2 linked regions of the Homo sapiens genome follow. The protein of the gene in region 1 purifies or fractionates together with the protein of each later gene. This does not show direct contact. Each region holds a gene or a part of one and is shown in the gene's direction. Other genes may lie near its edges. The genes, in order: PON1 and NDUFB6.

Region 1 (4,611 bases):
GTGTTCTTTTGACTCGTGTAGAATTTGTTCTTATTAAACCACCTATTGTATCCATGTTATCTAATTCAGTAGTTACTTCTCTGCCATAAGCATACTCAACTCATAGCCACATTGGACACAGATCATCATTCCCCCTCTTTTCGAATACTCTTCTCTTTTGGATTCATTGGTTCTACTTCTTAGGTAGATTCTTCTGCTCCACCTGGTGTTAACCAGGGTGGCTTAGCCAGTGGTATTCAGTTGGTGGCCAGGCTGTGGTGGCTGGGCTTGTCTAATAGCCCACTTCATTCATTTCTGCTTCCTTGGTGCCGATGGTTAAGAGGTTGGCTTCAGCTGACCACTTTCCCTCTCCATATGTTCATGGCCTTTCATGTGAATGCTCCAGTGGAGTGGTCAGGTTTTTTACATAGTAGCTCAAGGCTTAAGAGCAAGTGTTCAGAAGGAGCAGAGAGAGAGGGCAGTAGTTACAATGTGAGGCCAAAGAAGCTTCCCCCCAGAAAGCTAAAGGTGATAAGTAAAGCATGTTGGTATTGGCTGGCAATATTCCACAAGAGATGAAAGGACAGATATTGCAGAAGAGAGAAGGTATAACTGGGACCAAAAGCCTTGAGAAGGAAAGAGACATGGAGCAAATCATTCACAGTAACAGCAGACAGCAGAGAAGAGAGACATGGTTGTACAGAGGCACCTCCTTTGGGTCTTTACTCAAATGCCCCATTATCAGTGAGAACTTCTCTGACTGCTATTCTTCAGCAGAGGGTATTCCTTATCCCCTTTCTTGCTTTATGTGTTTTCTCCATAACATATGTGCATATCCATAACACACACATGCATCACCTAGAGCATTATATATGCCACAGTGACATGTTTTGCTGATTTCTCAATTGACTCCCCCCATTGGAATGAACGTAAGCTTGAGGAAGACGTTTTGTCCTGTTCTGTAGCATCTAGAACAGCGCCTGGCACATAGTAGGTACTCAATAAATGCCAGCTGCATGAGGAAATGAATGAGCTGTGTGGGGGATGTACTTGAGTGAACTCTAAAGTCAGAGTGGTGTTGAGAGAAAAATGCTTGAAATCCAGATGTTGGAAGGTGACACAGAGTAGTAGCCTGGTGAGAACAGTTAGATCTTAGGGGTTCCTACTACAGCCCTCCCTTCCGCACCTTTTTGGCTGTCACCATGATCAAGCTACTGAATCTCTCTGAGACGCAAGGACCGGGATGGCACAAAGTGAGTGCTCACCAAAGCTTGACTGTCCTTTCCCATGGCAATTTACTTCAGCTTGTTTGATTTCCCCTCCCCGACTGGACTAGGCACCTATTCTCTGTCTTCTCTCTTTACAGTTGGAAGGAGCAAAATGGGACTTTTGGCTGAAAGTGCTGAGCTCCTGCGGTGGGGGCTGACCGCAAGCCACGCCTTCTGTGCACCTGGTCGGCCCAGCTAGCTGCCGACCCGGCGGGGAGGGGCGGGGCGGGCCAATCGGCGCTGCCCCAGCAGGGCTGCGGCTGCAGGCAGGCAGAGCCTCCTAGCCCGTCGGTGTCTGCGCCCATCGATCCCTTTGTCTATCCCCGACCATGGCGAAGCTGATTGCGCTCACCCTCTTGGGGATGGGACTGGCACTCTTCAGGAACCACCAGTCTTCTTACCAGTAAGTTGGGTTGTGGTGAGGGCTGCAGCCTTCGTCCTCCTCACTCCCTGCCAGCTCCACGAGCCCCCAGAAAGTTGGGTCCAGGCTGTTAACAGAACATTTACAAGCAGGTGCTAGATGCACACTCTGCGGGGGTTTCATAAATGTTTGTCCAGCCGTCATGTGTCACTTGAAAACAAACTCTTGCTCATGGCCTGAGACATGGGATAAGGAGGCAATTGCCAGGGGTGTGAGTGCCCAGGTTGTCAGCATACACGAATTAATTTTTCATGAAGATTTGTGTGCCCTGGCTACAGATTCACTTCTCAACCTGGAAAGAAACAAACTAACCTGGCTGGGGGTTCTCCTGATATTTTGTGTATTAGAGAAAGGAGCCCCTGTCGCTTCTGCGCCTTGACTGCCTGGCCATGGCAAACCTTCCAGGCTTGAAGATTCTCAAATTGAGGCTACTGAGGGCCACAGCAAAACTGCGTGTGGACCCGAGCAGGTGGAGCTAACGTGTGCTGTGATGGTTCGCTTCAGTGGGGGCAGGCGGGGAAGAGGGAACCCTGGAGCCAGCATCTGATGTCCTGGGGTTTAGCTCTGCCCCATGAGTATGCGATTTGGGCAAATCACTTTACATCTCTAACCTTAGCTGCTTCAGTAAACTGGAAATAGTAATACACACTGCCTGCGACAGAGTAGCTATTCAATAAATGTTAGTTCCCTGCTTCCCTTTAAAGTATTTAATAAAGGGTTAAGTGCTATACAAGGGGGGTGGGGATATTTTAAGAATGTATCAAAAGTTTCATAACTTTTAACAGGAGTTCAAAGTCTACAGATCATCCTAGTCTCTAAGGCTTAGTCAACAATGCCTTATTTACTTTAAAGTAAAACCTAATAAAAATTAAATATAAAAAAATTATATGAGCTTATGGACTAATTAGAAGCTTACATTCAGAATGGGTTTTTACTATTTATTGTGGATGTTTTTCTAATTTTTTTAAGTTACAGAGTGCAGAAAAAAAGTAAGAAGCAGTTGGTATTCTTGGCTTTTAAATCATGTAAAAATTACAGTTTGTGAGTTTTTATTAATCACAGTGCTGGTGGCTGCCAAAGGAGATTATAGGTATAGATAAAAATATATAGATAAAGGATGGGTTGCTGAGCCTCCTGGAGTGACCCAGACAGAGGAAGGAAGGGAAATTTTACCCACTGTTGGAAACCCCTAAAACCTAGCTACTCAACTGGGTCTGGGGACCAGATGCCTGAGCATCACCTAGGGGCTCCCTGTACAGGCAGAATCTCAAGCCCTACCCCACACTATTGAATCAGAACCAGCGTCATGGAACAAACTCCCTGGGGGATTAGAGATCATGAATCTGCCCCAGGGAGAGAAGGCAAGAGATGATATCATGAGGCCTGCATCAGGAGCAAGCCAAATCCCCAGGATAGATGCATCCTTTTTTCTTCAGACTTGGAGTGTATGTGTGTGCGGCTCACAGGAAGCTATATATGCCTGGGCTGGAGGGAACTTAAGGAAGCACACAAGGGATGCCTCAAGAGATTTCTGAGTTTCCCAGGTGGGAGCAGTACAGAGAAAAGAACTGAGAGAGTTCCCCTAGACCACGAGTCTCCCACCCACGAGTCTCCCACCTTTGTAGTCGGCTGTATGTGCCGCACAAGTCCAGGGAATGCCTTGGATGATGGTAGAAACAGCTCCCCTCCCCTACCCCAACTTGGGCTATGGAATGTTGCAGCATCTGTATGGCAACTTCCTTGTCCCTACATTGCTAATTGCAATACGTGAGTCCACTGAGTTTCCCTTCTCAGAAGGAAACCACAAAGCTAACGTTGGGCCTCTCGATGCATTTCTGCCATTCCATGCTTACTGTAGGCAACACACAGTTGTGGGAAGAGAGTAGTTGTGGATTCCTGATGACCTGGGTTAGATATCATTTCTGCAACTTTCAAGTTATTTTACCACTTTATTCCAGAAAAGTTCCAGCCAGTTTCTCCACCCGAAAATTAGGGGATAATAATACATATTACAGCATATATATATATATATACACACACACACACACACACATACATATATTTATATTTATATAAAACATATAAATAAAACTAAGTATATATATATATATAAAAATCAGGCATATAGCAGATGTCCTGTAAACGTTAGCTTTTATAGCTGTCATATGTGATCTCAAAAATATAGAGTGATACTTGAATATGTATTATAATCATACTTCATTGAAAGTCTGAGATAAGGACAAATAATCCTCCAACCCTCCAGTCTCCCCTATGAATGCAACCAACACCATCTTCTCAGTCTGATGTACTTGCCTAGTATCTCCACAAAACACTTCAGTGGACATCTGCAGAGTACCTTCTCTTTGCAAACGTTGTGTTTCTGCTGGAGGTTATAGGAATGAATAGGTTGCAGTATTCACTCACCAATTTTAAAGTCTACTGGGAGCAAAAGAACAAAAACTGACAGCTGTGAAACTGACAACTATGACAACTATGGTAAGAAAGTTGACAGATGTATATGTGAAGGTTCCTGAGGGTAAACTAAGGAGTTATTAATCCCAATGCAGAAGACTGGAGAAGCTACAAAGCATCATGAGTAGGGGTCTTTCCAGTGGGTAATGGGCTAAAGAGCATTCTAGGTGAAGGGAAAAGTGTGAGCAAATAAAAAGAGGTATGAAAGAAATACAGGGAAGAGTCCTTAGTATCATGACACTTGATTTCAAATCCCAACTCTACCCTCTTAAATAAGCAACCACATGCAATTTACTCAGCCTCTCAGTGCCTCCATTTCCTTACCTACAAAACAGGGTAAATATTCATCTTTTTCTCAAAGGTGGCTAAAAAGATTAAATGAGGAAGTATGTGTGAGAGCCCTTATTGGAGCTTGGCACATAGTAGGCCATGAAAAGCAATTTGAATGAATGAGGCGTGTGTAGTAGCAGA
Region 2 (3,817 bases), on another chromosome or scaffold:
AAGGCTTGGTCTGGTGCAGGGTGTTGGATCCCAGGCAGAATGAGAAGGGCATGCATTTTGGGAAGTGGCGTGGCAGAGGGAGCAGTGGTGACTGCGTAGCCTGAAGTGTTGGAGCACAAAAGAGTGAGGAGGGCATTCGTATACCAAGAGAGGGGTGTTAGATCCTCAGTGGGTTGCAGGGGAGGAGGGTGAGCACATCTGTTTGGGGAGCAACAGTGGCAACAGCCTAGTATAGGATATTGGTACCTGAGCAGAGGGAGGAGGACATCTGGAAGAAGGATGGTATGAGGCAGTGAGGCAAGTGGTAACTCAGAGCAAGATGTCAGAACCTGAATGAGGTGAGGCAGGTATTAATGCTGGGATGTGGTTGTGGTGACAGGAGATGGGTTATATATAGGGAGATTGGCCAAATACAGGCATACCTCAGAGATATTTCAGAATTGGTTGTAGAACAATGCAGTTCCAAAAGTATTCTTTGGTTCTAGACCACCAAAACGAGTTACACAAATTTTTTGGCTTCCTAGTGCATATAAAAGTTATGTTTACACTGTGCTGTGGTATAAGTGTGTAATAGCAGTGTAAAAGAACGATGTATATGCTTTAATTTAAAAATACTTTATTGCTGGGCCATGTGTGGTGGCTCCCACCTGTAGCCCTAGCACTTTGAGAGGCCAAGGTAGGAAGATTGCTTGAGGCCAGAAGTTCGACCGGCTTGGGCAACATAGTGAGACTCCATGTTTCCAAAAAAAAAGAAAAAAAAATAGCTGGATGTAGTGGTCCACACCTATAATCCCAGCTACTCAAGAGGCTGAGATGGGAGGATTGCTTGAGCCCAGGATTTCGAGGCTGCAATAAACTGTGATTGTGCCACTGCACTCTGGCCTAGGTGCCAGGTTGATATGCTGCCTTAAAAAGAAAAAACAGGCCGGGCACGGTGGCTCATGCCTGTAATCCCAGCACTTTGGGAGGTTGAGGCGGGTGGATCACGAGGTCAAGAGATCGAGACCATCCTGGCCAACATGGTGAAACCCCACCTCTACTAAAAATAAAAAAAATGAGCTGGGCATGGTGGCGGGCGCCTGTAGTCCCAGCTATTCGGGAGGTTGAGGCAGAAGAATCACTTGAACCTGGGAGGTGGAGGTTGCAGTGAGCTGAGATCGTGCCACTGCACTCCAGCCTGGCGACAGAGTGAGACTCCGTCTCAAAAAAGAAAAAGAAAAAAACAAAAACTTCATTGCTAAAAAATGCTAATGATCATTTGAGCCTTAGTGACTATGTATGATCTTTTTGCTAATGGAAGGTCTTGCTTCCATGTTGATAACTGCTGACTGATCAGGGTGATGGTTGTTGCAGGCTGGAGTGGCTGTGGCAATTTCTTAATATAAGATAGCAGGCGGGGCGCGGTGTCCCACGCCTGTAATCCTACCACTTTGGGAGGCCAAGGCAGGTGGATCACGAGGTCAGGAGTTCAAGACCACCCTGGCCAAGATGGTGAGACCCTGTCTCTACTAAAAATACAAAAATTAGCTGGGAGTAGTAGTGGGTGCCTGTAATCCCAGCTACTCGGGAGGCTGAGGCAGGAGAATCGCTTGAACCCGGGAGGCGGAGGTTGCAGTGAGCTGAGATTGCACCACTGCACTCCATCCTGGGCAACAGAGCAAGACTCCATCTCAAAAAAAAAAAAAAAAAAAATATATATATATATATATGCACACACACACACATATACATACACATATATATACATACGTATATACATATATAAGTATATGTACATATATACATATATATATATGTATATGAGACAACACTGAGGTTTGCCACATCGATTGACTTTTATTTTCACGAAAGATATCTCTGTAGCATGAGATGCTGTTTGATAGCATAGCATTTTACCCACAGTATAACTTTCAAAATTGGAGTCAGGCCTTTCAAACCATGCCGCTGCTTTATCAACTAAGATTATGTAATATTCGAAATTCTTTGTTGTCATTTCAACAATGTTCATAGCATCTTCACCAGGAGCAGATTCCATCTCAAGAAACCACTTTGTTTGCTCATCCAAAAGGAGCACCTTCTCATCTATCAAGCTTTATCATGTGATGGAGGCACTTCAGTCACATGGTCAGGCTCCACTTCTAATTCTAGTTCTTTTGCTATATCCACTACATCGAGTTCCTTCCTGCACCGAATTCCTGAACCCCTCAAAGTCATCCACGAGAGTTGAAATCAACTTCTTCCAAACTCTTGTTCATGTTGATACTTTGACCTCCTCCTGTTAATCACAAATCTTCTTAATGGCATATAGGATAGTAAATTCTTTCCCAGAAGATTTTCCATTTTCTTTGCCTAGATCCATCAGAGGAATCACTATCTTTTTTTTTTCTTTTTGAGACAAGGTCTTGCTGTGTCACTCAGGCTGGAGTGCGGTGGTGCCATCTCGACTCACTGCAACCTCCGCCTCCCAGGTTCAAGCAATTCTCCTGCCTCAGCCTACCAAGTAGCTTTTGATATGAAGTGAGAAACATGCAGCTCTTTCTTTTATTTGAACAGTTAGAGGTCATTGTAGTGTTATTAAATTGGCCTAATTTCAGTATTGTTGTGTCTCAGGGAATAGGACAGTCCAAGGAGAGGGAGAGAGGTGGGGAATGGCCAGTTGGTGGAACAGTCACAACACACAACATTTACTTATTAAATTCACTATCTTATATGGGTGTGATTTGTGTTGCCCCTAAAATTTGTAGTAGTAACATCAAAAATCACTGAGTGCAGATTACCATAACAAATATTAATATAACAATAGTGACAAAGTTTGAGGCCAGGCATGGTGGCTCACACCTGTAATCCCAGCACTTTGGGAGGCTGAGGTGGGCAAATCAGCTGAGGTGAGGAGTTCAAGATCAGCCTGGCCAACATGGTGAAACCCCATCTCTACTAAAATACAAAAATTAGCCGGGCTTGGTGCACGTCTGTAGTCCCAGCTACTGGGGAGGCTGAGGCAGGAGAATCCCTTGAACCTGGGAGAAGGAGGTTGCAGTGAGCCAAGATCGCACCACTGCCTGGGTGACAGAGCGAGACTCCATCTGAAAAAGTTTGAAATATTGGGAGAATTACCAAAATATGGCACAGAGACGTGAAGTGAACACATGCTGTTAGCAAAATGGCACTGAGTTTCTGGGATCGGTTCCCGGCCCATGCCAGTTTTGCAGAGCACACCTGGTGTAGAGCCCTGTGACTGGGGCCTGGACCAGCTTGAGCAGCTGGCCAGCGGGTGCCACTGCCTGCGGGGCCCAGAGGCGTTGAGTACATCTGCAGTGCTCCAGAAGCACAAGACTGTGAAGCTGCGGGCCCTGTGCAGCCCGAGGAAGTTTGGCATGGCGGGCAGGAGCTGCCGGGAGATGCTGCGCAAGGGCTACCTCTGCTTCTAGCTCCCTCGTACGAGGATGGCATGGAGCTGACCGAAGCGTCCTCGACGATGCCGAGCTGGTGCTGCTCACCTCACGCCAGGCCTGGCAGGGCTATGTGAGTGACATCGGGTGCTTCCTCAGTGCTTTTCGCCAGCCGCACGCGTGGCTCATCCAGGCCGCCCGGCAGCTACTGTGTGATGAGCAGGCCCCCACAGAGGCAGAGACTGCTGGCCGACCTCCTGTACAACGTCAGCCAGAACGTCGCAGCCGACACCCGGGCTGAGGACCCGCTGTGGTTTGAAGGCTTGGAGTCCCGATTTTGGAATAAGTCTGGCTATCTGAGATACAGCTGTGAAAGCCGGATCCGGAGTTACCTGAGAGAGGTGAGCTCCTGCTCCTCCATGGTGGGT

The links.
Region 2: the proteins of PON1 (region 1) and NDUFB6 purify together in Homo sapiens (affinity purification with mass spectrometry; one large-scale study listed by BioGRID and IntAct). This does not show direct contact.

The regions. Positions count from the first base shown.
Region 1 is NC_000007.14:95,321,441-95,326,051, reverse strand, and holds the start of PON1 (serum paraoxonase/arylesterase 1), read left to right. Parts: upstream 1-1,519; 5' UTR 1,520-1,576; coding exon 1,577-1,650; intron 1,651-4,611. UniProt on the Homo sapiens protein: Hydrolyzes the toxic metabolites of a variety of organophosphorus insecticides. Capable of hydrolyzing a broad spectrum of organophosphate substrates and lactones, and a number of aromatic carboxylic acid esters.
Region 2 is NC_000009.12:32,566,624-32,570,440, reverse strand, and holds part of NDUFB6 (NADH dehydrogenase [ubiquinone] 1 beta subcomplex subunit 6), read left to right. Parts: intron 1-3,580; exon of another isoform or gene 3,581-3,817.